Linked DNA regions of Homo sapiens: all the other regions are linked to region 2. Evidence: fine-mapped expression QTL. A gene starts in region 2. Each other region holds a variant in brackets. All regions are shown on one strand. Distances are from middle to middle.

Region 1 (4,963 bases), 160 kb before region 2:
GACCTAGAAAAGTTAAGGAATTTAACTAAAATGACAAACACAGAAAAATCTGTTCGGCAAATTTCTAAGTTATAACTTCAATGGCATTCTTATTCTTTGGTGACAGGAAAGAAAAAGGGAGCAACTTCACTCTATTAACAATAAAAATCTCTAAAAATAGAATAACAAGTCCATACTGACATAAGCTATTGAATAATAAATAAACGGGAGAGAAGAGACAATCTCCTGTGCAGAAGAATTCCAAGTAATTAGCAGGTGGAACATAACTCCCCACTCCCTGAGTGTAAGTTATAGATCGTGACTTCTTTCCAGAGAGCAGCATGAAAAGAGGGGTAATGGAAACCTGACTGTGGAGAAACCTCACCAACACTACCTCACCCTAGTGATCAAGGTCAACATCAACAGTGATAAGTCACATTGACAGTATGTGATGAAAATGGCACTGCGCTTCTGCGATCTTCCTCAAAACTCGTAACCCCAGTCTAATAAAGAGAAAAACATCAGACAAGTTCAAATTGAGGAACACTTTTACAAAGCACTTAACCAACACTTCTGAACACTGTGAAGGTCATAAAAAACAAGGAACGTCTGAAAAACTGTCACAGCCAAAAGGAGCCTAAGGAGACATGATGACTACATGTAACGTGGCATCCTGGAACAGAAAAGGCTCATTAGGTAAAAACCAAGACAATTTGAACAAAGTATGGACTCTAATTAATGATAATGTAAAAATGTATCAGTATTAGTTCATTAATTGTAACATGTTAATATGTAACAGTTAATAAACTGGTTGTAGGATATATGGGAACCCTCTGCACCATCTTCGCAATTTTTCTGTAAATCTAGAATGGTTTTAAGAAATAAAACTTATTTTAAAACTTGAGAATTAACTTCTCAGAACACTAATTTAGTTTTTAAAAGTCAAAAAATTCCAATGATGGAAAATAAAGGAATACATGAATATATTATGGAATAAATAAGTATATGGAGATTTGCTCCTGACAGGAATTTCTAAATAAGTTTAATGTATATTTTATAATGAGAGGATGGGAATATCAAATTATATATTTTTAAGTTAATGGTACTGAGTTCATTTCACCAGAATTACACCATTATAAAGCTACGATTGACAAAATCCACAAGAATGCATTAAGCAGAAAACACGGCCAAAAACTTTTCAGTAGTAAAACTAATTTAAAATGTAACAAGCACAAAGCAATTCCAATTAAATAAATAATGAAATAGGATGTCAGTTTAGAAAAGAATGAATCTGAATTAATATTTCACAATGCACATGGTAATATATTTCAGGAGGTTAAAAAAGTAAACCTAAGAAAAGTCAAAAAATAACTAAACAGGAGAACATTTTTTTACTTTACCTTAGAAGAAAAATTTGAGTCCTGAAGAAAAAGACAATTTCAATATTGAAAACTTTTATTTTTACATGAAAAATAAAAACTTTTTATGCAATCAATAAAACAAAAATTATAGGAATAAATGTAACAGACTAGGAGAAATCATTACAAAGCTTGCTACCCAAAATATCCATATACAAAAATATAGGCATATGTAGAAAAATACATATGTCTATACACACGTATATAGAGATGAGTATAAAAGTTCAGTTGTGCATTGCCAAGGGAATAATTTCCAAGTAGGAATACAATAAATGAATCAAGACATAGCAAAATGCATAGCTCTGGTAGCAAAATTATTTGGTAAACTATGCAAAAACAGGCACAAAGCTAAAAATATTTACTATTTGGCTTTTTACAGAAAAGGTTTGCCAACCCCTGGGCTAAAGAAGCAAGTTAATTCACTGACCCACACAATTTTTAGTGAGGTTGAGATAGTCATTACAGACAATCCTTTTCAAAAAAGGAGGGAAATGCAAAGTACATAGAATCAGGTTACTAAAATACAGAGGGAAATGTTGGAAATCTGGAAATTCGTTAAGACTCAGTCCTATTTCCATCGGGAAATGATTCTCCATGGCTCTGGGATCCATCTTCCAGGTTCAGCCCTCTGAGACACTCTTTCTTTTTAATGAAAGGTAGCACTTGCTTTCTGCTAAGCAGTTTTCTCATCATGCTTCCTACTTGTAGAAGTTTGGGGGTCCAAAGGCATCTTTTCATTTTGTACTCTCTGACCCCTTTAATCCAAACTAGTAGTGATCCTTAAAATACATTCCTCTTAAAGCTTTGTGGGGGTCCTAGGAATCTCACTGGGGTTCTTTGCATTAAACAAAAGCCACACGCACAAATCTTT[T/C]TCAGATAAGCCCTCCTCTACCTTGAGATTCTGCTGAAATGGCTGCAGGATAAGGACCATCCCCTTAAGTTTCTTGGACGCGCTATTGTTTGATTGAATGGATTGGTCAGTCACACCATTAGTCTTTCTTTAGAGGCCCTTTTATGTGACTGAAAAGTACTCTGAGGCAGAAACTTAGATCTTTCTTAAATTTTAACAAAGGATTTTACAGCCACACTCTCAACTTTGTCCTTAGTTTTCCTGACAATGCCTTGGATCTATCTGATCCTTGTTCAAGAAGGAAACCAGAATATTTCACCCTAAAATATGCTTCTTTAAAATATTTTTTTTTTTGAGACGGAGTCTCGCTGTGTTGTCCAGGCTGGAGTGCAGTGGCATGATCTCAGCTCACTGCAAGCTCCGCCTCCCGGGTTCAAGCCATTCTCCTGCCTCAGCATCCTGAGTAGCTGGGACTACAGGCGCCTGCCACCACACCCGGCTAATTTTTATATTTTTAGTAGAGACGGGGTTTCACCGTGTTAGCCAGGATGGTCTCGTTCCCCTGACCTCGTGATCTGCCTGCCTCGGCCTCCCAAAGTGGTGGGATTACAGGAGTGAGCCACCGCGCCCAGCCAATTTATTGCTCTTTATTGAAGATTTTCTATGAGCTGGGATTCTAAACCACTCTAAGCCACTCTTGAGTTACTTTTCTCTCATGTGAACTGCACTGCAGCATTACTATACGTGTTTGTTTCTCTCTTGTTCATCTGTTTTTTGCTGCAGGAGTCTGTCCCAACTACGAACTTATGAAGGTTGAGGAAAATTATTATTTCTCCCTTTCACTTAGAAGAAGCCATTTCTTAATTTAGCATCATTTACTGTTTGGAGAGGCTGACATGGTCAAAACTATCAAGTCTCAGCACCTTCAGGTTTATCAATCCTTTCTTTAGCATACTTGCTCCTGTCACTCTTTAGGCACAAACCAGGTGGCACCTTCAAGTCTAGTTGGAAATCTTCTTAGCTACGGTACTCAGTTCATTATGTGCATTCTAGTTTCTACATTACTACAGGTGACAGTGTTGCATTATAAAGCTTATGCTACTATATTAGAAGGATCCCCTTTCCTCCAGTTTCTAAAAAGATTCTCCCATTTTCCTTTAAGCCCTTCCTGGCAACCTCACCAAAAAAACATGAGTCTACAGTTTCTCCAAGATACTTTAGATTTACACTGACAGTGTCTTCAATGTCCATTCACCTTTCATCCACTACGAAGTTCCAAAGCCATGCCCACTTAAAATATTTGTTGCTGGGCACCATGGCTCATATGGGATTGTTCCCAAAGCAATCCCAGCACTTTGGGAGGCCAAGCAGGAGGATCACTTAAGCCTAGGAGTTTGAGACCACCCTGGGCAACACAGTAAGACCATATCTCTACAAGAAATAAAAGAATTAGCTGGGCGTGGTGGTGCACACTTGTAATCCCAGCTACTTGGGAGACTGATATGGGAAGACTGCTTTAGCCCAGGAGGTCAAGTCTGCAGTGAGCTGTGATAGCATCACTGCACTCCAGCCTGGGCAACAGAGCAAGACCCTAGCTCAAAAAAAAATTGTTGACATCACTTATCTTACTTCATTTGAACTGCTATATCAGAATAACATAGATGGGTGGCTTATAAACAATATAAATTTATTTCTCACAGTTCAGGAGGTTGGGAAGCCCAAGATGAAGGTGTCAGCAGATTCAGGGTCCAGTGAGGGCCCACTTCCTGGTTCACAGATGGCCATCTTTTCGCTGTATCCTCACATAGTGGAAGGCGAAACAAGCTCTCTCAGGACTCTTACAAGGACACTAATCTTATTCATGACAGCTACACCCTAATGACTTGATCACCTCCTAAAGGCCCCATGTCCAAATACCATCTCATTAGGGATTAAGTTTCAACATAGGAATTTTGTGGGGACACAATCAGTCTACTGCATCAATCAACCTCTAGTGCCAGTATCAAATTAGTTGTCTACTGTGTAACAATTATCCAAAACTTGTAAGCTTAAAACACATAGCTTAAGATCTATTATTTCACATAGTTTCTGAGAGTCAGGAATCCAGGAGTAGTTAGCTCAATGGTTCTGACTCAAATGTCAGCCTCAGGCAGGAATGCAATCATCATGAAGTTTGACTGGAGCTGGAAGGACTACTGGCTACTGGCTAGAGGCTTTGGTTCTTTGCTGTTTGGGCCTCTCCATAGGGATGCTCACTTGACTAGCTTCTCCCAGAGCAAGTGATCAGCAAAAGCGTGATAAAGATGGAAACTGCAATGTCTTTAATAATCTAATCTTAAAATTAACATTCTGCTGTTTTTTATTGGTCACACAGACCAGTCTTGGCACAGTATGGAAGAAGAATGAATCCACAGGGCGCAAATACCAGCAGGTGGTGGGGGCCATCTTGGAGGCTGGCTGCTGCAGTGGCTTGGCAATTCCAGGCAGAGTCTCATTTACAACACCCAAATAAGGAAGGAAAGAAACAGGGAGGGAAAGGGGGAACTTCTTCACATAACTTCTCTTTTCTTAGGGGGAAAATATTGTTCAGGGAGCTCTCCAATAAACTTCTATATCTCTTTGGCCTGAAGAGAATAAAACAGTTACCCACTAAGTGCCAAGGAGCCTAGAAAAATAAGTATGTGGCATTTTTTGCCTCAATCATAAAAAGAAAGCA
Region 2 (4,963 bases):
TCATTCTCATTCTCTCTCCCCGCTGAGTCTCCATTTTACATGCCCACCGGCAATGTACAACAGTGCTGCTTTCTCCAGTATTTACTGTCTTTTGTATTATACCCATCCTAGTGGATGGGAGGTGGTATCTCATGGTTTTGATTGGCATTTGGAGACCATTCTCTTCTGAGGTCACCTATTTTTCCCCTATGAAGAAAGAGTTAGGCTTTTTGCTAAGAGTAAGAGGGGAGGTAGCAATAAACAGTGGAGTGGAGGCCGGGTGTGGTTGCTCACGCCTGTAATCCCAACATTTTGGGAGGCCAAGGCGGGAGGACTGCTTGAGGCTAGGTGTTCAAGACCAGCCTGGGCAACATAGGGAGACCCTGTCTCTACAAAAAATAAAAAAATTAGTCGAATGTGGTGGTGCGCACCTGTGGTCCCAGCTACTTGGGAGTGGGGAGGATCACTTGAGCCTGGGAGTTTGAGGCTGCAGTGAGCTATGATCACATGGCACACTGTACTCCAGACTGGGCGACATAGTGAGACCCTGTCTCAAAAAGAAAAAAGTGGAGTGGAGCAATTGGGGGTAAAATGGTGAAGTCTGAAGCAGTCACCAGGGAGGATGGGAAAGAGCACTGAGCAGAGAAACCTAGCAGGATGGTAAGACCAAGCCCAGAGAAAGCTGGAGACCGTAAGTCTTTAGAGGTACCCATCTGGTCTCCTCTGTGAGCTTTTCTACCCCAGGAAAGAAGTGTGCTTTTGTGTATGTGTGTGTGTGTGTGTGTGTGTGTGTTTTAAATGTGATCTAACACACAGTTGACTTATATAATTATTTCATTAACTGATCTCCTCTACTAAGTCTATTCTGGCTAAATTCAGACAACACTCATCATACCCCTCTTGTGCATTCTTCAGCACGTACACAACATGTACTTTTTTTTTTTGAGATGGAGTCTCACTGTGTCGCCCAGGCTGGAGTGCAGTGGCACAATCTCGGCTCACTGCAACCTCTGCCTCCCCAGGTCAGGTAATTCTCGTACCTCAGCCTCCTGAGTAGCTGGGACTACAGGCGCACACCACCACGCCCAGCTAATTTTTTGTATTTTTAGTAGAGACGGGGTTTCACCATGTTGGCCAAGCTGGTCTTGAACTCCTGGCCTCGTGTAATCTGTCGCCTCAATCTCCCAAAATGCTGGGATTACAGATGTAAGCCACTGCGCCTGGCCAATATGTAACATTTTTAACTTTTTGTAAAACCAGAGAATATTTTGAAATGTGTCCGAATGCCCTGCCTAGATTCTAGACTCTGTGAGGCCCCAGCCTCCTTTCCTATGCATGACTTACTGTTTAATGTAGTACACACAGAAGGGATATCATCATCATAATAAAGGTCCTCACTTTCCTTCACAGTTTCATCTACCCCACAATGACTCCCAGGAAAAGGAGGGTACTGTTTCAGACTTCCCAGCTCCCGTATATTAGGTGGAGCCAAGTTCTTGCTGCAGCATACGGGCACGCTTTAAAATTTTCAAATCATTTTTTAAAAGCTACAAGCTTGACAGCTTTGGGTTTTTATGGCTACTTGTTTTCTGAAGTTCACAGAACTTTATCATTTGGATCACACACTTAAAAAAATCACTTGCAAAAATCTCTTTAAAGATGAATATGCTTCCTCTTCAAGAGAAACAGACTAGCGGGTAGAAGAAAAAGGACCCGTCTAGAGTATTAATAAATAGACTGATATTCACACAATGGATTAAATGGATTAAAGTCCATCCCACAGATGAACTGTTATATTAATAGAATCCAAATATACAGTTACATCCTCGACCCTGAAAGCAGTTTAAACGGGTGAAATTCACCCAGTGCTCACTTGAAATGAGTACTCTAAAGTTTAAAGCACCTATAAACTGCCCTCAGGATTCAATCATTTTTCCATTCCTTCCGGCATTATATACTTTGATGTTTTAATGTTATTAGCCCACAATACACACCAGTTTCAGAAACTCAGTTTTTGTCCTCTAAGGGCTTTTAGTCCTCCCAAAAAAAGAATAGGGCAAAAGCAAGGAAGATCATGAATCTGGTTTTCTAAAAGCATTATTACAAGACTGCTTTATAAAATTGTAATCCCCAGCTGCAGAGTTCCGCAGATGGCTTGAAAGTGTCTTACATGCAAATAAATAAAAACAAAAGGCCACTTATGCGAGCAGAACACAGCGTGCTCGATAGTCATCTTAAACCGAGCAGGTAGGTACTTTATCAGAGGCAGACAAGGGAAACGTCACTTATTTAGAGTTCACCGCACGCCTGGATAAAAGTCCTCACTAACAAAATCCCTGCCTTTGTGGATTCTGTGTCGGAAAGGGAAACGATAAAGAATACGGTTTGTGACAGCACTACTCTCAGGAGACGAAGGAGAGATGCTAAGATCTTGGAAAGGAGAGAGAATAGGAAGAGTCGGAGGGGAGATCTCCTCTCAGTAAAACGGCACCCACAGCAGTCAGACTTCAGCTACGAGCAAAATCGAGTCCGTGCACCTCAAAAAAGAGAGGGAGGCAGGGAAAACTTTCCCTCGCCTCTCCCCATCCTTCCCTCCTCCTCGCAGGAGAGCACATTAGCTGAGGTGCTGGCGGGGCCGGGCCGGGGACCCCATCCCTCGCCCCGGACGCAGCGCCCGCAGGGACTGCCCGGGAGCCCGAGCGAGGGAGGCGGGAGGTACAGGAGTAACGGGGCACTCCCGGCCCGGCCTGCGGGGAAGGGAAGCAGGGGCAGGGCCGAGGGGGAAGAGGCCTCCGCGAGCTCGACCCCGCGCCCACACGCTACCTGCGAGGTCAGCTGCTGCCGCGCCGTCCCGCGGGACCGCAGGGATCTCCGAAGCTCCAATGGGCGCAGAAGTGCGAGCGAGCGGCGGTGCCCACCGGCAGCGAAGAGGAGGAGCGCCAGGGCGCCGGGCCCGCCGGGTCACGTGGCCCCGGCCGCCTCACGTGACCCGGTGCAGCGCGCGCCCGGGACGCTACCCAGCCGAGCATCCCGCACCGCCCCGGCCCCGGCCCCGGCCGAAACCCTGCTCTTCGGGCCCTACAACCCGACTTCTTTAGAAGCCGATTGGCCGTCTCAGGCCCGCCCCGAGGCCCTGCCACTGGAGTGTCCCCATGAAATCCGGTGGCTGCTGCCGGGACTTAGAGGCTTTTGTGTCTGAGGAACCAGGAACGCGCGAGGCACGGGCTCCTGCTCTGCTCCCCGAGATGGCTTGGCTGTGGGGAGGGTCGGCCTACCACCCCAGAGACCTAGGACGGAAAAGCGACCGAGAAACTTGGCTCCCTGCCCACTCTAGAGCGCGTCTGGCCCCGGGGCACCACCCAGGTGGTGCTGCCTGGGAGGAAAGGCGGCGGAGCTGGGACTAGTTTGTTTTTACTGGAGACGCGCCTCCCTCCCTCCCCGCCCCTCACTTCCTGATTGAAAGTACCTGAGGCAGGCCAGGGACTAGGGAAGGTGGCAGCTGGACAAAGGTATGAAGGAAGGACGAGATGAGGCACAGGTCCTGGTATTGGAAAGAGGCAGAGGTACCTCGGAAGCATGCCATAGAGGTTAGACGGGACCTAAGAGGGCATCTGGTCCAACCGGATTCGTGTTACCAGCGAGTAAACTGAGGCCAGGAGAGGGACTGCTACGAGCTGCTCCAGCCTATCACCTATAAAGACTACAGTCCCTTTGTAAAATACCATACAGCTCTCGGAGAACTCCCAGTTGGCGCTGCAGGATAAAATCCAAACTTGTTGGCATAGCATTCCAGCCACTTGTTCACTTACCTTTCCCATTTGAGCTCCTAGGAATAAACAGAAAAACATTTCATTTTCTAAATATCACCAGATAACTTCACTTTTGGTAACTTGAATTATTAAAAAAGTCCTACCGTCCCTCATCTCTTGCCACTTCCCCAACATTACTGGAGGCTCTGGCTACAAATAATTTGTTTTCCTTGACTACTCAACTTTCTTTGGATTATTTACTTTTTCTCTAAGTTTCTTTACTCCTTTTTGCTTTGTTCATTCTTTTGTCTGTATCTGAAATGTCCTGAATCACCACCTCCCCCACTTAAAGAAAACCAGGGCCAATGATTAAAAAAAAAAAAAAAGGTATTAAGAAACTAATGCAATAAGAGAATTGAGCTTAGTTCTGTATCTATTCTGAGGTCTCGCTCCTGTTGCACTAGTTCCTGAATAAAATGTTTTTACCACTTCAACTACTGTTTGGCTCTGGTTTTCTTCAACAGCCTCCAAAGTACACATCAGTTTCCTACTCATCTTTCAAAATCCAGGTCAAATGCCGCCTACTCTTGTCTTCCCAGCATCCTCTTCCCTGATTTTTTAGCAATTGAAGTTCATCCAGACAGTGTCAGCTGCAACTTCTTCCCTGATTTCCAGAATACTATATATATTCTGATACACCTCACACTGCCCAGAAATAGACTGCGCATTTCCTGTAAAAGGTGAATTGTCTATTGCTGTCTTCTCCCTTAGATTATAAACTCTTTGAAACAGGATTCTTCTGGGTTTAGAACAGCGCCTGGCATGTGATAGACCCTTAATACTCACTGAATGAAGTGGCTTGCCCAAAGTAGTGGCAGTTGAGTGAATTTACTAGAAGAGGCCTGTTTTGCTCAAAGAAACTAAAATCAGTTTCTTTTGGTTGCAACCCGATCAAAAGAACTTGTGTAAACATGTCTGAGAGAAAAACGAGGGCATGGGGTGTGAGCAATCAAATATGTCCTGAGCCCTCACTGCTTATGTGTCAGATGCCATACTTGGAGCATCTTGGAGGATTAAAAGCTGAATGAGACATGGTTGCTGATAAGGAATGTGTAGTCTGGTTCATTATTCCAGTACAGGGTGAAAAGTATTATGATACAAGGTGCTAAGTGAACACAAACCAGGGACCACAAATCAGGGAGTCAGGGAGAAACTTCATGAGAAGGTCAGTTGGA
Region 3 (4,963 bases), 36 kb before region 2:
TCTTAGGCTGAAATGACTCTTTCTCCTCTTTGCTCCTGGCAACAAGTATAGTACATCCTTTCAGAGAAGAAATCCTCCTCAAAGGGGTGAATTCACCATGTGACTTTCCGTCTAACACTCAGATGAGATCACAAAGTGAGAGGGAAAAAACACTTTTGACTTTCAGTGGGTGGAAGGGAAAGAAGTTATCTAGGACAGCAGTCCCCAACCTTTTTGGTACCAGGGACCAGTTTTGTGGAAGACAATTTTTCCACGGACCGAGGCGGGGAGGAGGATGGTTTGGGGATGATTCAAGCACATTATGTTTATTGTGCACTTAATTTTTATTATTGTTACACTGTAATATGTAATGAAATAATTACACAACTCACCATAATGTAGAATCAGTGGGAGTCCTGAGCTTGTTTTCCTACAACTGGACGGCCCCATCTGGGGGTGATGGGAGACAGTGACAGATCATCTAGGCATTAGATTCTCATAAGGAGCTCGCAACCTGTATCCCTCGCATGTGCAGTTCACAATAGGGCTTACGCTTCTTTGAGAATCTAATACCGCTGCTGATCTGATGGGAGGTGGAGCTCAGGCGGTAATGTGAGTGATGGGGAGCAGCTGTAAATACAGATGAAGCTTCGCTCACTGCCACTCACCTCCTGCCGTGCAACCCAGTTAATAACAGGCCACGGACCAGTACAGGCATATGGCCTGGGGTGTGGGGACCCCTGATCTAGGAGGATATAGTCAATGACCATATTTTTTCCAAACTTAACATTTAAATTGTTAGGACATTTGTTCTGAAAAGAATGCCTGTGCCATTTTAAGATATAAGAACTGGGGGAAGCCTTTTATAACAAGTCCAGGTTAAGTAGTATATACAAATCTGAAGATGTGTACAGAAGTGCTTCAGCTGGGTATGCCATACATGTGCAATTCTGGCCAAATAGTCCCATTCAGTGAACCAATTATTTTCCAATCACAATACTCACTGCAAAAAAAAAAAAATACTGTATTATACCTAAAGAACATGGCAAAAATAAAGTGAAAGGGAGTATTCAATTGGTTTCACTTTAAGGCAAGCTTAACTCTTCCTAAGCACCCTTGCCTCCATGCCCATGACTGGTCACCTAATTGGGACAACTCCACCTGTCTGACACACCTAAGCATGACGTTTTAGAAAATTAACCTTCAATATCAATTGCTGAACAACCCAAACACCTTAACTGCCAAGAACTACATTAATTTTCAAGCACAGAGCATCATGACCCACTTATTCCCTCTGCTTATAAATAAAACAACTTAAAAGAAATATGCTAGCAAAAAGGCAAACATAAACAAGAAATAAAATAAAAAGATTAAAGTCACCTTGTAAATGGCTACTCAGTTTTAAGACATCCTAGCTTTTTCAGCCAATAATGGACTCTTAAAGAAGACAATATTCAGAAAAGGTACAGATTATGTAACCAAATATCACCCCAAATTCCACTACCCTTTATAATACCTCTGTTTTGATGCCCTTCTGAAATAAAAGAATTTGAAATCAGTTGAAAGACAAAGATAGAAAGAAAGAAGATGGGGTTAATGTGTCACCTTAAAAACCACAAGTTGTTTGCTTTTTTTATTGAGACAGGGTCTCGCTGTGTCACCCAGGCTGGAGTGCAGTGGTGCGACCACAGTTCACTGCAGCCTTGACCTCCCAGGCTCAAGCAATTCTCCACCTCAGCCTCCTGAGTAGCTGATACTACAGGCAGGCACCACCACTCCTGGTTATTTTTTGTAGAGATGGGGTTTCGCCATGTTGCCCAGGCTGGTCTAAAACTCCTGAGCTCAAGCAATCCACCCACCTTGGCCTCCCAAAGTGCTGAGATTACAGGTGTGAGCCACCACACCCAGCCGGTTCTTCACTTTTTTGAAAGTTCATTTTTGGACCAGGCGCAGTGGCTCACGCCTGTAATCCCAGCACTTTGGGAGGCTGAGGCGGGCGGATCACGAGGTCAGGAGTTCCTGACCAGCCTGATCAACATTGTGAAACTCTGTCTCTACTAAAAATATAAAAAAATTAGCCAGGCATGGTGGCACGCGCCTGTAATCCCAGCTACTCAGGAGGCTAAGGCAGGAGAACTTGAACCTGGGAGGCGGAGGCTGCAGTGAGCCGAGATCGCGCCATTGCACCCCAGCCTGGGTAACAGAGTGAGACTCCGTCTCAAAAAAAAAAAAAAAAAGAAAAGAAAGTTCATCTTTGATTGGTATTATATCAAGTTCTGTAAGAAATCTAGTATAACAGAAGTGCTTAAGAACAGGCTACCCAAAAACTTATACAAGAACAGTCATGACAGCACTACCCACGAGAGTCAAAGGTGG[G/A]AACAACCCACATGTCCATCAACAGTTAAGTGACAAACAAAATATGGTGTATATATATATAATGGAATATTATTCAGTCATAAAAGGGAATGAAATACAGAGACATATTACGTCAATGGGCCTCAAAAACATTAAGTAAAAGAAGCCAGACACATGGGTCACATATTGTATGCTTCCGCTTATATGAACTCTCCAGAGTCGGCAAATCCATAGAAACAAAAAGCAAACTAGTGGTTGCTAGGGGTTGGGGGGAGAGGAGAATGGAGTGTGACTAATTAACGTATAAGGGCTTTCTTCTGGGGTGATTAAAACAATTTAGAATTTGACATAAAGGGTGGATGTAGGCCAGGCACAGTGGCAGGTGGATCACCTGAGGTCAGGAGTTCGAGAACAGCCTGGCCAACATGGTGAAACCCCACCTCTACTAAAAATACAAAAATTAGCTGGGTGTGGTGGCTGGTGCCTGTAGTCTTACTACTTGGGAGGCTGAGGCAGGAAAATCTCTTGAACTCGGGAGGTGGAGGTTGCAGTGAGCCGAGATTGCACCACTGCACTCCAGCCTGGGCGACAGAGTGAGATTCTGTCTCAATAAAAAAAAAAAAAAAGGTGGATGTACAACATTATGAATGTTCTAAACGCAACTAAACTGTACCCTTTACAATGGTTAATTGCATGTTATGCGAATTTGATATCAATTGAAATGAAAGCACTTATGAGAGAAAATTTAAAGTTCATGGTAATATTTTATAATATATGAATACATTTGATTATGCACATCTATTTTGACGGAACGTATGAAAGCTAATAGAGAATAAAACATTCTGAGAGATCCCAAAACCAGCAAAGACACAGGAAAACTGGTCAGTTGGTAGTACCATTCTTCCTGGGTGGAGGTGGCCCTGCACTTTCTTACCCACAGACAGGAGGCGCCACGAGACGGCGGGAGTGGCAAAGCAGGCAAACACGTCGTCGGTGCAGGAGAAGTGGGTGAGGTGCGGGAGGATCACGGACTGACCCCGGCACTGGCCCCACATGTACACGTGCCCACCCTGCGTCTTGGCTGCAGACGTGTGGGCAGAGTGACAGGCTGCAATCTCTACCACCCTGAAAAGTTTTAAGAAAAATGCATGTTACTTCATGATCACAGAAGCCCACAGCACACCACACAAGGCAATTTAAAAGTTCATGCTTGCAATACCTCAGAAAACAGTCCAAGTTCCAGGGACACTAGCTGCCAAGTCACAGCAACAAAAGCAACAGATCAGGGCAAGAGCACTGTTCTCCTTTCCCAAATGCCCACTTCTCATCCTCAGCTCACTGTGAGTTAGGATAGATCACACAGACCGCCGAGGAAAACTTGGAAAACAGACCAGCAAATCCAAGCAAATGAGGAAAGTGGACACTGAGAAAATGCCCTAACAAATGTGATGGCTTAAATACCATTTCTTTTTTTTTTCTTTTTTGAGACAGGATCTCACTCCGTCACCCAGGCTAGAGCGCAGTGGCATGACCATGGCTCACTGCAGCCTCGACCTCCCAGGCTCAAGCAATCCTTCCACCTCAGCTTCCCAGACCACAGCTGCACCACCATACCCGGCTAAGTTTTGTATTTTTTATAGAGACAGAGTCTCGCTATATTGCCAGGGCCGGTCACCAACTCCTGGGCTCAAGTGATCCTCTGCCTTCGCCTCCCAAAGTGCTGGGGATTACAGGTGTAAGCCATCGTGCCTGGCCCATTTCTTTATAAATGTAACTTTTTCTCTCATCTCCTACCAGAGCTCAGAACACTCATTGGGCTGATAAGCATTGGCTGGGGGTCACGGACTCTGAACGTTCCAATCCAAAAGGAAAACAAGCCAAACTTACTATATTTCTCAGTAGTATGCTTCTTGGGTAAGGTCTCATAATCAGAAGTCAGCACTCCAGGACATAGGAGGTAAGACCTTACAATTAGGCTGAACAACATCAAGCATCTATTCCAGTAACACATATTATATCAAATCAATATTTAAACAGATAATGTCCTTTCAAGAGCAGATTTATTTAAAAGTTGTTTTACTTGGCTCAAAGTAAAAGTTTATATTACACCATAAACATCAACATGGCCATAGACCTTACTTGTCTTCCATACTAAAAGGGCAACAGCAAGACTGCAGTAATTATACCAAGATGCATTCACACCTATCAATCACAGGTGGTTATTTCAGAGAGCTACATAAGAATCATATCAACCTCATGTTCATTCTGGCTACTACTCAAAACACTTTTGCATAGGCCAGGCACGGTGGGGCTCATGCCTATAATCCCAGCACTTTGGGAGGCCGAGGTGGGTAGATCACTTGAGGCCAGGAGTTCAAGACCAGCCTGGCCAACATGGCGAAACCCTGTCTCTACTAAAAAATACAAAAATTAGCTGGGCATGGTGGTACACACCTGTAATCCCAGCTACTCAGGAGGCTGAGGCAGAAGAATCACTTGAACCCACGAAGTGAAGGTTGCAGTGAGCCGAGATCGTGCCATTGCACTCCAGTCTGGGTGACAGAGACTCTGTCTCAAAAAAGGGAAGGGAAGGGAAGGGAAGGGGGGAGGGAGAAGGGGGAAGGGGGAA
Region 4 (4,963 bases), 20 kb before region 2:
TTAAAAATTTGACATAAGCGTTGTAAGATAAAGTTGAAGAAATTTCCCAGAACACAGATGGGAGAGAACATTTTTAAAAAATCATGAAGATCAGGCCAGGCATGGTGGCTCACACCTGTAATCCCAGCACTTTTGGAAGCTGAGGTGGGAGGATTGCTTGAGCCCAGGAGGTTACAGGTGTGAACCACCTGCTCACACAGTGAGGCTGCAGTGAGCCAAGATTGCACCACTGCACTCTAGCCTGGACAGAGAGACCCTGTCTCAAAAAAAAAAAAAAAAAAAAATTTGGAAGATCACTCCAGAATCTCTAACTTTCTAAGAAAAATTCCATAAAGGAGAAAACAAAGAAGAAAATTTTTCTTTTTTTGAGATGGGGTCTCACTCTGACCCTCACTCTGTCACAAAGGCTGGAGTGCAGTGGCGCAATCATAGCTCACTGCAACCTCAAACTCCTGGGCTCAACTGATCCTCCTGCCTCAGCCTCCTGAGTAGCTGAGACTACAGGTGCGTGCCACCATCCCCGGCTTTTTTTTTTTTTTTTTTTTTTTTTTTTTTAAGAGACATGGCCTCGCTATGTTGACCAGGCTGGTCTTGAACTCCCGGCCTGGAGCAAACGTCCTGCCTTGGCTTCCCAAAGTGCTGGGATTACAGGCATGAGCCACCACACACAGCCAACAAGGGAAACTATTCATGAAATATTACAAGAAGAAATTTCCAGAAATGACCAATACAATAAATTAAAAATTACACCAGAGTACAGAATCATGATTATGTCACAATACTTAAAAAAATAAAAATAAAAATAAAAAAAAGATCCTTGAAGCTTCCAAAGAGGAAAAAACAGTCACATACAAAATAGCAAAAGTTGCCAGGCATAGTGGCTCACACCTGTAATCCCAACACTTTGGGAGGCCGAGCCACAAGGATCACTTGAGCCCAGGAGTTTGAGACCAGCCTAGGCAACATGGTGAGACCTCATCTCTACAAAAAAATTTAAAAATGAGGTGGGAAGATCGCTTGAGCCCAGGAGGTCAAGGTTGCAATGAGCCATAATCACTCCACTGTACTCCTGCCTGGGTGACAGAGAGAGAGAGACCCTGCCTCAAAAAAAAAAAAAAAAAAAAAAAAAGGCCAGGCACAGTGGCTTATGCTTATAATCCCAGCACTTTGGGAGGCTGAGATGGGTGGATCACCTGAGGTCGGGAGTTCAAGATCAGCCTGGTCAACATGGAGAAACCCTGTCTCTACTAAAAACACAAAAATTAGCCAGGCATGGTAGCATATGCCTCTAATTGTACTTCGGAGGCTGAGGCATGAGAATTGCTTGAACCCAGGAGGCTGATGTTACAGTGAGCTGAGATCGTGCCACTGCACTCCAGCCTAGGCGATAGAGCGAGACTGTCTCAAAAGAAAAAAAAGGAAAGAAAGAACCAGTGTGATGCCAGAAGGCATGATTACGCAAGGCAAAAGTGAGATAATCACCTCATTATGCTCAACTCCAGTTATATTCATACCACATGATGATGCTCAGATTTGGATTTCACAGCTCTCTTGAGAAAGATGCAGAGAACTTGAAGTAGATTCAGTTAGGAGTTACAGGCACTTAGAAGGCTAGATACTAAAACCTGTGACAGCATTCTAGGAAGCTGTGATTCCTCAGTCTAGACAAAGAAAGGCCGGGATGCAAATCATCTCCCAAATGCCACCCTAGACAATTATCCAACAAAAAGCTGAGGACCTCAGAGAAAGAGAGCAAGAGTTAATGTATCTAAAGTATAAAAGGAAGCATTTAAATAGATAATGAATTTTCAGAGAGTGTTGGGTGCCCACAGTACAGATCGATTACACACACATACAAAATGTCCACTCTCCCTTAGTGATCTTGAAGAGGCAGAGTAAAAAAGGACAAGAACCTATCAACCTGCATCCCCGGTTCTTTCAATATGGCAACTACATGAATGCCAGAGAACAGATGAAGATTTCCCGATTCAAGATGCAAGCAATGCACAAAGAAAGGAAAGCCAGGTAGCATCTATGTTTAGAAAAATGTACCGGCCGGGCACAGTGGCTCATGCCTGTAATCCCAGCACTTTGGGAAGCCAAGGTGGGCGGATCACGAGGTCAGGAGTTCCAGACCAACCTGGCCAATATGATGAAACCCAGTCTCTACTAAAAGTACAAAAATTAGCCGGGGCGTGGTGGCACGCGTCTGTGGTCTCAGCTACTCGGGAGGTTGAGGCAGAAGAATCGCTTGAACCCAGGAGATGGAGGTTGAGTGGGCCGAGATCATGCCACTGCACTCCAGCCTGGAGACAGAGCGAGACTCCTTCTCAAAAAAAAAAAAAAAAAAAAAAAAAATGCCGGGCGCGGTGGCTCACGCCTGTAATCCCAGCACTTTGGGAGGCTGAGGTGGG[C/T]GGATCACGAGGTCAGGAGATCGAGACCATCCTGGCTAACACGGTGAAACCCCATCTCTACTAAAAATACAAAAAATTAGCCGGGCATGGTGGCGGGCGCCAGTAGTCCCAGCTACTCGGGAGGCTGAGGCAGGAGAATGGCGTGAACCCAGGAGGTGGAGCATGCAGTGAGCCGAGATTGCACCACTGCACTCCAGCCTGGGCGACAGAGAGAGACTCCGTCTCAAAAAAAAAAAGAAAGAAAGAAAAGAAAAACGTACCAAAGGAACCCTGAAAGTTGCATTGCAGAACAAAGACCAGTGAGCTATTAAGGAATAGGATTGCAGCTGTCCCGCTCCCGCTCCCATTCCCACTCCCGCTCCCTCTCCCTCTCTTTCCACGGTCTCCCTCTGATGCCGAGCCGAAGCTGGACTGTACTGCTGCCATCTCGGCTCACTGCAACCTCCCTGCCTGATTCTCCTGCCTCAGCCTGCCGAGTGCCTGCGATTGCAGGGGCGCGCCGCCACACCTGACTGGTTTTCGTATTTTTTTGGTGGAGACGGGGTTTCGCTGTGTTGGCCGGGTTGGTCTCCAGCTCCTAACCGCGAGTGATCTGCCAGCCTCGGCCTCCCGAGGTGCCGAGATTGCAGACGGAGTCTCGTTCACTCAGTGCTCAATGTTGCCCAGGCTGGAGTGCAGTGGTGTGATCTCGGCTAGCTACGACCTCCACCTCCCAGCTGCCTGCCTTGGCCTCCCAAAGTGCCGAGATTGCAGCCTCTGCCCGGCCGCCACCCCGTCTGGGAAGTGAGGAGCGTCTCTGCCTGGCCGCCCATGGTCTGGGATGTGAGGAGCCCCTCTGCCCGGCTGCCCAGTCTGGGAAGTGAGGAGCGCCTCTTCCCGGCCGCCACCCCATCTAGGAAGTGAGGAGCGTCTCTGCCCGGCCGCCCATCGTCTGGGATGTGAGGAGCGCCTCTGCCCAGCCCCGACCCCGTCTGGGAGGTGAGGAGCGTCTCTGCCCGGCCGCCCCGTCTGAGAAGTGAGGAGCCCCTCCACCCGGCAGCCACCCCGTCTGAGAAGTGAGGAGCCCCTCTGCCCGGCCGCCACCCCGTCTGGGAGGTGTACCCAACAGCTCATTGAGAACAGGCCATGATGACGATGGCGGTTTCGTCGAATAGAAAAGGGGGAAATGTGGGGAAAAGATAGAGAAATCAGATTGTTGCTGTGTCTGTGTAGAAAGAAGTAGACATAGGAGACTCCATTTTGTTCTGTACTAAGAAAAATTCTTCTGCCTTGGGATGCTGTTGATCTATGACCTTACCCCCAACCTGGTGCTCTCTGAAACGTGCTGTGTCCACTCAGGGTTAAATGGATTAAGGGCGGTGCAAGATGTGCTTTGTTAAACAGATGCTTGAAGGCAGCATGCTCGTTAAGAGTCATCACCACTCCCTAATCTCAAGTACCCAGGGACACAAACACTGCAGTAGGCCGCAGGGTCCTCTGCCTAGGAAAACCAGAGACCTTTGTTCACTTGTTTATCTGCTGACCTTCCCTCCACTATTGTCCTATGACCCTGCCAAATCCCCCTATGCGAGAAACACCCAAGAATGATCAATAAAAAAATAAAATAAAATAAATAAATAAATAAATAAATAAATAAATAAAAAAGTTGCATTGCAACACAAATCCACTGAAAAATTAGGCTGGAAGGACCATCATTTGCTATATCTAATCATCCACAGCTTTATGGAGGCAGTCGAAAACCTCAGAAGTTTGCCTAATTTGCAAGACATCCTATAGCTTTTCCAGAGTTAGCCCGAAGTGTTTAACTTTCACCTGCTTTATGTACTTCCTCTCAGAAATTAAGAAGCAAACAATCCAAAATCAGTTATCTGGTATAGCCCTATCTCCCCTAAGCTTAGAATTAACCGGTCAATTTCTTACAAACTGAAAAGTTAGATGGGTTCCCTCCTTACCTTCGGTGCTGAGAAGAACATGTGGTCCACTCCCGTAACTGAGGCTTTTAATCTTCTTTCCACATAAGCCTTCTAGCTTTTTGGGTACAAGTGTACTCTGGTTATCTCCAGTTCCTAGACAGTTACTATAGTTCAGTCCAAATACAAAGACCTAGAAAATAGATAGTTTTTTTTCTGAGTCTTTTGACCGAAAGCTGTATTAAAAGCTCCCTTCTCTCCTCTGAAAATAAGACATTTCAACTACAGAGCTCAGGAGGTGAAAAGAGACTGATATGGTTGTTAAGAAAAATTCAACCTCTGTGGACATTGCTTACGTTTCAGAATGTTTGTCTATATTATGAAACTCAGAGTGCTATGGAGTAGACGGGTATTAAATCAAGAAACTGAAAAAAGAGAAACTATCAAAGCCATAGTCTTCCTGAACTTCAGGATCTCTTTATTTATACCCCGCCTTTTCTCCATCTTTGAACTGGACACTTTGAAGACCAATTGCCAAATAAGTCCTAAAACGAAACTAGGTTTCAAGAGACTCTTACCTCATCATTGTCAGTAACGTACAGTGCTTCACTGGCTGAGGTGCCGAAGACACACGCCTTC
Region 5 (4,963 bases), 130 kb before region 2:
GTTCTATATATTTTTTGGATTAAGCTTGTTAATTTGTCATTTAAATCCTTTATACTCTGGTTTTTTACCCACTTTATCTCAGTTCCTTAGATTTGTTACTTCATCACCAAATTGTGGATCTGTGCATTTTCCTTTTAATTTTGCTTTATATATTTCAGAGTGATGTTATTTGTACATAAAGGGTCATGAATATTAAATCTGGTGAATTGTTCTGTCAGCATAAAATATTTGTGTCTTTTATTGATTTTCATATTCAACTCTTATTTGATACGTTTCTTCTTATAATTGCAGATGTCTTTTTCCAGTCTCTTCGTTTTCAGCCTTGCTGTGACATTTTGTGTAATTTAAGTGGGTCTCTTATTTTAAAATATCATATCTGGGTTTTGCTTGCCATCCAATCTGAGAGTCTGCCCTTTAATAGGTAATTCACCTTTATTGTGATTATTGACATATTTTGGCCTTATTCTTGTCATTATTTAACAAGCTTCTCTTTGTATCTTTTATATCTTATTTTTCCACCTGTTTTTTGGAACAGAGTCTTGCTCTGTTGCCCAGGCTGGAGTACAGTGGCGTGATCTCGGCTCACTGCAACCTCTGCCTCCCAGGTTCAAGCAATTTTCCTCCCTCAGCCTCCCAAGTAGCCCAGATTACAGGTACACACCACCACACCCAGCTAATTTTTGTATTTTTGGTAGAGATGGGATTTCGCCATGTTGGCCAGGCTGGTCTTGAACTCCTGACCTCAGGTGATCCACCCACCTCAGCCTCCCAAAGCGCTGGCATCACTTTTATTTTTAATTGAGGTTAGCCCCAAGTTTTCTTTGTTCATTTTTTTTTAAGTTGATTAACTTTACATTTCACAGTTCTTAAATTTATGTTTTCTTAACAAAGTGTACATTTAGTCAGTTTTGATAAGGCCCCTGTAAAGAAGAAGTTAGCATGCTTCTACTTTGCTTTCTCTCATCTTGAAACAATCCCTTCCATCTCTCCTCCAGAAAAGAACATAATCTCTCATGATATCTTTAAGAATTTTTCTTTCATTTGTTATTAAATTCAGTTTACATTTAACATTAATGTGTTTTACTCATTTATTTGCTCACTATTGCTACGTATACCTCAGTGCTTTCTTATAGGTTCATTTTTCATCATCAGATACTTATTTCTTTCACAGTCTCTGAGTGACTCTTTGAATGTCTGCAAATGTCTTTTTTTCATCTTTAGTATGGAAAGATAGCTTGGCTGGATATAGAGTTCTGGGTTCATACTGACTTTGCTTTAACATTTTGCATCTGACATTTCTGATGAGAAATCTCATTACTAGTCTAATACACCTTCCTTTTAGATAATCTACATTTTTCTGGAAACATCTAAGACTTTGTGTTTTTGATATTCTGAAGTTAGTCACGGTTTGTCTAGCGATGTGTGTTAAGAATTTTATCCTGGTTGGTACTCAGTGGATTCAGTTTGCTTATGTGTTTTCCAGTTCTGAGAAATTCTTGCTCATTATTGCCTCCTCTCCATTTTCTCAATTTTTTGCCTCCTCTTGTTTCCTTGCTCTGTGTTCTTGGTGAATTACTCAACTCAGTCTTCCAGCTTACTAACTGGCTCTTCATGTTAGTCTGTTCTGTCATTCAGTCATCTATTGAGTTTATTTCAACAACTGTTTTTATATCCAAGATAGCTAACTGGCTTTTTTTCAAAATTGTGTGTTATTTCATGGATGAGATTTCCTTCTTTAGCTCAGTCTCTTTCATAGTGTAGCCTTCTTCAGATATTTGAGGACTCTCAGTTGTGCATTAATCTCCTCTGAGAGGATTCCTGCCCATCGTTTTGCTGTTGTGATTGTGGTTGCCATCATCTCTATAGCTTCCCATCTGTTTCCTTTCCCCAGAAGGGCCTTACTGACTTGGCCCTTAGAGAGTTCCCTTTTTGTTTTCAGCATGGCTATATATATATATTTTAAATCTCCTAACATTTCCATGGTTTGGTGTGGAAGTGGCAGAAGAATTTACAGTATCTTGACTAACATCTTGAGAATTAAAATTGTTGATCTATTTTTGACCTATTATTCTACCTCCAGATATGTTATCCTAGGGAAATTGCCAGAGATATGTATAAAGTATATTTATTTTAGCATTATTTATTATACTAAAAATTAATCTATAAAGGAAAACAATCTAAATATCGAATATAGAGGTTTATATTATTAATTAATATTTTTATTAAAATTTAATTATTAAAATATTTAATGTACTATAATGTATGCGTTATTGACCAAAGTATGTTATACAGCCAGTTGTATTATACAAAAATATTAGTGATGGAGGAAAATGCAGGAAATGTTTTTAATGAAAGATTATAAAAAATTAAATATACTACAATCCAAATTTTTGTTTTAAAACTACATTCTGAAAGAATAACAATAATTGGTAGTATTCCTTGAATCTTTCGTATGTCAGGCACATTATATGTAATTAAGTCTTGTCCTCAGAACAACCTGTGAGATAGTTAGTATTATCCCCTTTTTAAAAGGTTTATAAAAGACTTATAAAATGGAGATAGTAATATAAATACAAATATATTAAATATGGGTGA[T/C]AGGATTGGGTGGGCCTTCTCTATTATTTCTAATTTTGATACTTTACATATTTTTTCCAGATAACATAATGTTTTTTTGTAATGGTTCATGCTGTTTTAAAAGATCAAGCTGTTATAACAATATCTTATTTCCTTATATATACATATATATATATATATATATATATATATGTGGTCCTTTACAAATATGCACTATTCTTTATTGTTTTCCTTACAGAATGTTTCATCCATTTGTGGACCAAAAGATGGAGTTGGTTTTTATTTTTAAAAAGATAATGTTAATGATCTGATACCACTACAAATATTTACGTGAGAAGATTCATGGACTTGTCTTTTGGTTGGACTGTCACTCATTTCTGAAAGTTTCTTCAGCCACAATTTCTATTTGAAAATTCAAGTATCAAAGGATACCAGGTTTAGAATGGTATAATGATGTATTTTGTCTGAGGACTGCAAATTTTATAGAGACCACAGTTGGATTCCAGTGATATTCTGCAATCAAAGTGATTTGATAAACCTAATTTTGAAGCATTTTATATTTATAAGCGACATCAAAAGATGGGAGAAAAAAATGGTAGGTTGAAGAACACACTGTTACACTTTATATCTAAAAGTATAAAAGTATATAGACAATGTAAGCTGATGTGGAATTGTCAAGGTTTTGCATTGCGAGGAACTTTTCTGAATTAGAGGGAATTAAGGGTTTATTCTTGTATAGCCACCAATTTTGACTGTCTTTATCATTAGTTGTGAAAAAATTGACTTTTTTGTAAACTTTTTTTTTTTTCTTTTTTTTTGGTGATGGAGTCTCTGTCGCCCAGGCTGTAGTGCAGTAGCACAATCTTGGCTCACTGCAACCTCTGCCTCCTGGGATCAAGCGATTCTCCTGCCACAGCCTCCTGAGTAGCTGGGATTACAGGCATGTGCCACCATGCCCAGCTAATTTTTTGTATTTTTAGTAGAGATGGGGTTTCACCATGTTGGTCAGGCTGGTCTCAAACTCCTGACCTCATGATCTGTCCACCTTGGCCTCCCAAAGTGCTAGGATTACAGCACTTGCACCTGGCCAAAATAGGTGAGCCACTGCACCTGGCCAAAATACTTTTAGTGTTACAGAAAAATTGAGAGGATTGCAGAGTTCCAGTAAACCTGGTACTTAGCTTTATCTATGATTAACATTTTACATTTGGATGCTACATTTGTTACAATTAATGAACCAATATTGGCACATTATTATTAACTGAAGTCCATAGTATATTCACGTTAGTTTTTACCTGATGTCTTTTTCCATTCCAAGATCCCATCCAGGACACCACATTCCATTTACTTGTCATGTCTGCTTAGGCTCCTCCTAGCTGTGATAGTTTCTGAGACTTTTCTTGTTTTTTATTTTTTTGGGATTTTGTATCCAAATATTTTGTAAGATGCCCCTCTGTTGGAATTATTGTCTGATGTTTTTCCATAATTTGACTGGAGCGATGGGTTTTGGGGAGTGTGATCTCAGAGGTAAAATGTCATTTTCATCACATCATATCAAGGGTACATGCTGTCAGCATGATTTCTCAGAGTTGATATTGAACTTGATCAACAGAGCTTGAGCTGGCTAATGTAGGTGGTGGTATCAAATTTCTCCACTGTAAAGTTACTCTTTTTCTCCCATTCCCTGCTATACTCTTCGGAAATAAATCACTATAGGTAGCCCACAGTTAAGGAGTGGGGATTTATGCTCCCCCTCCTTAAATGTGGAATATCTACGTTAATTATATTTGGAATATTTCTGCAGGGGAGATTTATCTCTCTCTCTTCTTCCCTGTTTATTTATTCAGTTAATCATTTATATCAGCATGGACTCATGGCTATTTATTTTATACTTTTTGAGTTACAAGCCAGTACTACTTTATTTATTTTGTTTTTCAAATTGTCCCGGGTTTGGCTATTGGGAGCTCTTTCAGTTGGCTCTTTTTTTTCTTTTTTTTTTTAAGATGGCGTCTCACTCTGTTGCCCAGGTTCATGTGCAGCAGCGCAATCTTGGCTCACTGCAACCTCTGCCTCCTGGGTTCAAGCAATTCTCTTGCCTCAGCCTCCTGAGTAGCTAGGATTACAGGTGTGTGCCGCCACGCCCAGCTAATTTTTGTATTTTTAGTAGAGATGGGGGTTTCACCATATTGGCCAGGCTGGTCTCGAACTCCTGACCTCAAGTGATCCACCCGCCTTAGCCTCCCAAAGCGCTGGGATTACAGGCATGAACCACCATGTCCTGCTCAGTTGGCTCTTGTGTCCCTTTGATATACCGTCATCAGTGTAGGTATTTTTTATTTGTCTTTGTTTTATAGCACTTCCCTTTTGGCACTCGAAGATTGCTCTAGAT
Region 6 (4,963 bases), 53 kb after region 2:
AGCCATGCCCAGTTAGTGTTAACTGTAACTCCCTGCTGGTCTGCCTCCTGCTAGGAGGGACTGAACATCAAATCACTCGCATCGAATTACTCAGCAGGTGAGTTCTGGGGATGATAACCACACAATTCTCTCTGCACGAAAGATGGGTTTGAGAGCCTCAGAGTCTGGGGGAAGCTCTGCCAGCCATCCACTTACTGGCTTACTGTTTGCCTGAAGTAAGCATGGGAATCCCACAGGGTACAAGGTCCCGCATACCCTTCTGGGATTTCCGATGCCCTCTTTGCATGTGCTCTGGTCCATCAAGCTCCCATGCCAGATGCAGTGCTTGTAGTTGCAGCAGTGACCATAGCAGTGGCAACAGTTCTACAGGGTCACAGAACTTTAGGGAAGCCTCCTAACACCCCTGCTCTTCGTTAGGCTGCAGCTGCTTTCCTGTCCATGATTTAAGCATCCTTAGATCCCAGCTGTCCAGGAAGCTCTCCCCACGCACCTCAGCCTAAGTCCAGCCTCCCACTGAGCTCCCATGGCATGACTGTCCAGGCCCCAGCGCCCTTGTGCCCTAACCGGGGCTGTTCCATGTTGATATGTGGTCTCCTCAGGCATGGTGTACACTACTAGAGAGGAGGGGCCAAGTCTTCCATCCTTCTGACCCTCTTCAAAGCCTGGAACAAAATTAGATATTGAGAGTTGTTCATTAAGTACCTGAGTGAATAATGAATAATTGATTAAAGCCAGAGAATCGGGTATCACAGTAAGGAGTCCCTGGGTCCTCCGAACTTTCCAGAATAAAATTCCAAAATGAGAACACCAAGAGGTTCCCTGGCTTGAGAGCCAAAATGGCGGCACAGACCTATATCTCAGGCACACTTTGTGGTAAAAACAAGAAGCCAGACACACTCTTTCTAGACACACGTCACACCCAGAATGACTTAGCTTTTAGTCTGTGGAGGAAAAGGGGTGGAAAGTGGAGACCTGGAACCAGATGAGAAGTCAACGGGAGCAGTAAGTTCAGTGTGTGCCTCCTGTCCCAGCACCTGGGTCAACATGGGCAAGACCTGATGGGGTGGTGGAGATGCTGACCTTTGCTGCTGCCTCTTGGGCCTGTAAGAGCAAATACAATTTAAAAAAAAATTTTTTTTTAATTTTTTTTTGAGACAGGGTCTCTCTCTGTCACTCAGGCTGGAGTGCAGTGGTGCGATCTTGGCTCACTGCAGCATTCACCTCCTGGGCTCAAATGATCCTCCCACCTCAGCCTCCTGAGTAACTGAGACTACGTGGAGTAGCCACCCCACTCGGCTCATTTTTAATTTTTTGTAGAGACATGGTTTTGCCATGTTGCCCAGGCTGGTCTCAGACTCTTGGCCTCAATGAATCCTCCTGCCCTGGCCTCCCAAAGTGTGGGGATAACAGGCATGAGCCACTGCGCCTAGTCTGCAAATTCACATTGAAAGAAGAGGCCTGTTTGATAGATCAGTAGGGTGACTATAATTAACATTAATCTAATATGCATTTCAAAAAAGCTACAAGAGAATAATTTGAATGTTCCGCTGCATAAAGAAAGGATAAGTGTTTAAGGTGATGGATATTCCAGTTGCCGTGATTTGATTATATTAATGTTACCAAATTATTACATATACTTCAAAAGTATATACATCTATTATGTATCAACTAAAAAAATAAGAGTTTTAATTCTCCTTGTGGAAAATAAGGGAAGAGACTTCACCTCCCTCCCTTTTCTTAGAGATTTTACTTTAGGAAACTTCAACTTTTAAGTTCTTTCCTCTGTCTCTTTGAGATGTATGTAAATCTTTTAAAAAGCTAAATAAGGGCCAGGTGAGGGGGCTCACGCTTGTTATCCCCAGCGCTTTTGGAGGCTGAGGTAGGAGGACTGTTTGAGGCCAGGAGTTCAAAGTTACAGTGAGCCATGATTGCATCACTGCACTCCAGCTGGGCAGCAACAGGGGCCCTGTGCTTTAAAATAATAATAAATAATAAATTTAAGAAGCTAAATAAGCCTCTTGGCAGCTTTAGGACTTAGAAATATCTTTTTCAAGGACCAAGGAGCCAACCTTTTGAAACGTAGTCATCAAGAGTTTCAATGGGAGGGTAGGAGCCTGACCTGGCAGGTGCCTCGCTCTAAGTTGCAAAACTACCTCCTGTCCTAAAGCTATGAGAGGTTTGTTTTTCCTTTGAATAAAGCCAATTAGCTAACATAGATGGTGACATCAGTTACCAGGTGAATCTGTGGTAAACTCTGTGCAACAAATGGGGCTGTCAAGTCCTCTTACTTGAGGACTGACTAGCTATTGTCTATGTGGAGAACCTGTCTGGAATAGGTCACCTCTGCATGACTCTATAAAAGGGTGAGGTCTCTTTCTGTCTTTGTAGTCTCTTAGGGGATTGTGTGGGATGTGCATTACATTTTAGTTGAGTGCTTATTCACTAATGAAACAGTTTTCTTTCTCCACTCCCTTTGTGGAGAGATTTCC[TG/T]GGTTGGCAGAGGTTGACTTTTAATAATATTTTCTCCACAGGCCCATCGTCCCCTGACTCTGTGAGCTTTCAGCCACACCCAGGATCAGTCAGATCAACTGCTCAACTCAAAGGCATCCTAGTGAGCAAGGGAAAACTCAAGGTGGTTTTTGGAGGGTGCTTAGTTAGGAAATGATGAACACAGTTCAACATGACTTGCGGCCCTCCCCATGGGCAAGAGTATGAACACCTGTGACTGTTCCTGAACTCACTAAGGAAAGTCTTTTACAGTGTGTGAAGGGTGACCTGGAGTTTCCTTCCCACATGGCTCATAAGAGCAGCAGCTCAGGAAAAACAAAACAAGTATTTATTTATTTATTTATTTATTTATTTATTTATTTATTTATTTTTAGAGACGGGTTCTCACTCTGTCACCCAGGCTGGAGTGCAGTGGCACAATCATGGCTCACTGCAGCCTCAACTTCGTGGGCACCAGTGATCTTCCCATGTCAGCCTTCTGACTGGCTGGGACTACAGGCATGCCCCCCATGTCTGGTTATTTTTTAAAAATTTTTATTAGAAGGCCAGGCGTGGTGGCTCCCGCATGTAATCCCAGCACTTTGGGAGGCCAAGGTGGGAGGATCACCTGAGGTTGGGAGTTTGAGACCAGCCTGACCAACATGGAGACACCTCGTCTCTACTAAAGAAAAAAAAAATATTAGCTGGGCATGGTGGCGCATGCCTGTAATCCTAGCTACTCGGGAGGCTGAGGTAGGAGAATTGTTTGAACCTGGGAGGTGGAGGTTGTGGTGAGCCGAGATAGTGCCATTGCACTCTAGCCTGGGCAACAAGAACAGAACTCCATCTTAGAAAAAAAATGTTTTTATTAGAGACAAGTTCTTGCTTTTTGCCCAGGCTGCTTTTGAACTCCTGGGCTCAAGTGATCCTCCTGCCTTGGCCTCCCAAAGTGCTGGGATTACAGGGGTGAGCCACCATGCCTGGCCACAAAACAATTTTAGAAAAGAAAAAAGCCTTTTATTTTCACTTAATTGTCTTGATTTCCACTCCTCTGAGACATTCACCCCCAGGAAACTTGGCTGTGTAGCTATAGATGATAAGTATTTTTAAATTCTCCTTGAGAAATGGCATTATTCTGCCTTAGATCTCGAACTAGAACCTGACAATGAGTCCTCCTGCTTGCCCCTGATCTGGGGCACACTGATATTTTTGCAGGTTCCTTCAAGCATGAAATTGCAAACCTAAACAAACTGGTTCTCATAAAAGCACTTCCAATCCTTCAAATAAAAGGAGGCAGCCTAATTATAAATAATCTCTGGATTAGAAACATCACACACCACATCTCTTGCAATTTTTATTTTACCTCGTCTTTGAATTCCATGAACTTCAATTTCATGTGGTGTTAAGTGCTGGCTTAACCTGGAGAGAAAATATAAAGGATATAAAGAAATGTATATAAAGATTTCTCAGAGTTATAAAAATACTTCTGTGAGAGAATTGCTACAAAAAGGGAGATGCAAGACCACCCTTTGTCCAAACTGGCATTGTCTAAATGCAGTTGAGTGTCTTGCCTTAGAGTCTGGGCTTGAAGTCAGTCAGAACTGACTAGAACACCAGCCCTACCCCTCACCAATAGGGTACCCTTGGGCCAATTATTTAACCCTTCTAAGCCGTAACTACCTCATCCGCAGAATGGAAATGATGCTAGGAAGTACCTGACAAGGTTCTTGTGAGAATTAAGTGAGATCCTGTGTTCATCTAGTCAACTTGTATTTCTTTATTTTTAATTGTATTATACATTTTTAGAGATGGGGGTCTTGCTCTGTTGTCCTGGTTGGAGTGCAGTGGTGTGATCACAGTTCACTGTATTCTCAAACTCTTGGGCCCAAGGGATCCTCTGGCCTCAGCCTCCTGAGTAGCTGGGACAACAGGTATGGGCCACCATGCCTGGCTAATTAAGATTTTTAAAAAATAGAAATGGGGGTCTCACCATCTTGCCCAGGTTGGTCTCCACCTCCTGGGCTCAAGTGATCCTCCTGCATCGGCCTCCCAAAGTGCTAGGATTACAGGCATGAGCCACTGTGCCAGGCCTTGACTCGTGTTTCTTGAGCAAATCACTGAGCTATGTTTAAAAGATACACAGATGAAGGACATATAAACCCAGTCCCTGCCCTTAACTTACAGCCGAGCTTTCAATAAGGGAGAGCTATTAATATTAAGTCCCACTGATGGATGTTAAAATGTAAATGAAGCATAGAGTTCTTAGGGCCTAGGCTCTTCTTGATGTTCCCTTCCACCATCCTTGGAACTCTCCAGAACGAGACTTGTTTTGGGGGAAGGAGGGTGCCTTGGCTGATGGAAAGTGCGGGGGTGGGGGCCGAAGGAAGTGCAGGGCCTAAGACTGTTGTTCTTAAGCATTCTGGAGGCTGCTGGACATTTAGCTCCCAGCCTCCTCTCTACCACAATGAACACTTCT

The links. PIP is the estimated chance that this variant, and not a neighbour inherited with it, causes the effect. A credible set is the group of variants that fine-mapping cannot tell apart.
Region 1: its variant is the best candidate, but not a certain one, in a credible set for the expression of RCBTB1 in unexposed skin (GTEx, PIP 0.75).
Region 3: its variant is the best candidate, but not a certain one, in a credible set for the expression of RCBTB1 in lung (TOPMed, PIP 0.51).
Region 4: its variant is the best candidate, but not a certain one, in a credible set for the expression of RCBTB1 in whole blood (TOPMed, PIP 0.52).
Region 5: its variant is the best candidate, but not a certain one, in a credible set for the expression of RCBTB1 in whole blood (INTERVAL, PIP 0.88).
Region 6: its variant is the best candidate, but not a certain one, in a credible set for the expression of RCBTB1 in esophagus mucosa (GTEx, PIP 0.72).

The regions. Positions count from the first base shown.
Region 1 is chr13:49,423,844-49,428,806 of GRCh38, forward strand. All of the region lies in intron 3 of CAB39L (calcium binding protein 39 like), which reads right to left. Among named protein-coding and RNA genes, the nearest start is that of CAB39L, 18 kb to the right of the region's middle. The variant T/C (reference allele first, on the strand shown) is at 2,269.
Region 2 is chr13:49,582,642-49,587,604 of GRCh38, forward strand. It overlaps RCBTB1 (RCC1 and BTB domain containing protein 1), which reads right to left and starts at 2,917. Exons shown (of 13, transcript NM_018191.4): 1 at 2,803-2,917. RefSeq lists a silencer at 2,441-3,150.
Region 3 is chr13:49,546,190-49,551,152 of GRCh38, forward strand. RCBTB1 (RCC1 and BTB domain containing protein 1) reads right to left here. Exons shown (of 13, transcript NM_018191.4): 9 at 3,269-3,459. Among named protein-coding and RNA genes, the nearest start is that of RCBTB1, 37 kb to the right of the region's middle. The variant G/A (reference allele first, on the strand shown) is at 2,356.
Region 4 is chr13:49,562,252-49,567,214 of GRCh38, forward strand. RCBTB1 (RCC1 and BTB domain containing protein 1) reads right to left here. Exons shown (of 13, transcript NM_018191.4): 3 at 4,903-4,963; 4 at 4,367-4,517. Among named protein-coding and RNA genes, the nearest start is that of RCBTB1, 21 kb to the right of the region's middle. RefSeq lists an enhancer at 3,286-4,093. The variant C/T (reference allele first, on the strand shown) is at 2,415.
Region 5 is chr13:49,448,741-49,453,703 of GRCh38, forward strand. It overlaps SETDB2-PHF11 (SETDB2-PHF11 readthrough), which reads left to right. Exons shown (of 21, transcript NR_135324.2): 2 at 2,813-3,169. SETDB2 (SET domain bifurcated histone lysine methyltransferase 2) reads left to right here. Exons shown (of 14, transcript NM_001160308.3): 2 at 2,813-3,169. The coding sequence starts at 3,154. Among named protein-coding and RNA genes, the nearest start is that of SETDB2-PHF11, 6.9 kb to the left of the region's middle. The variant T/C (reference allele first, on the strand shown) is at 2,596.
Region 6 is chr13:49,636,018-49,640,980 of GRCh38, forward strand. LOC105370205 (a long non-coding RNA gene) reads right to left here. Exons shown (of 2, transcript XR_941964.3): 1 at 3,851-4,963; 2 at 1-1,101. Among named protein-coding and RNA genes, the nearest start is that of ARL11, 10 kb to the left of the region's middle. The variant TG/T (reference allele first, on the strand shown) is at 2,490.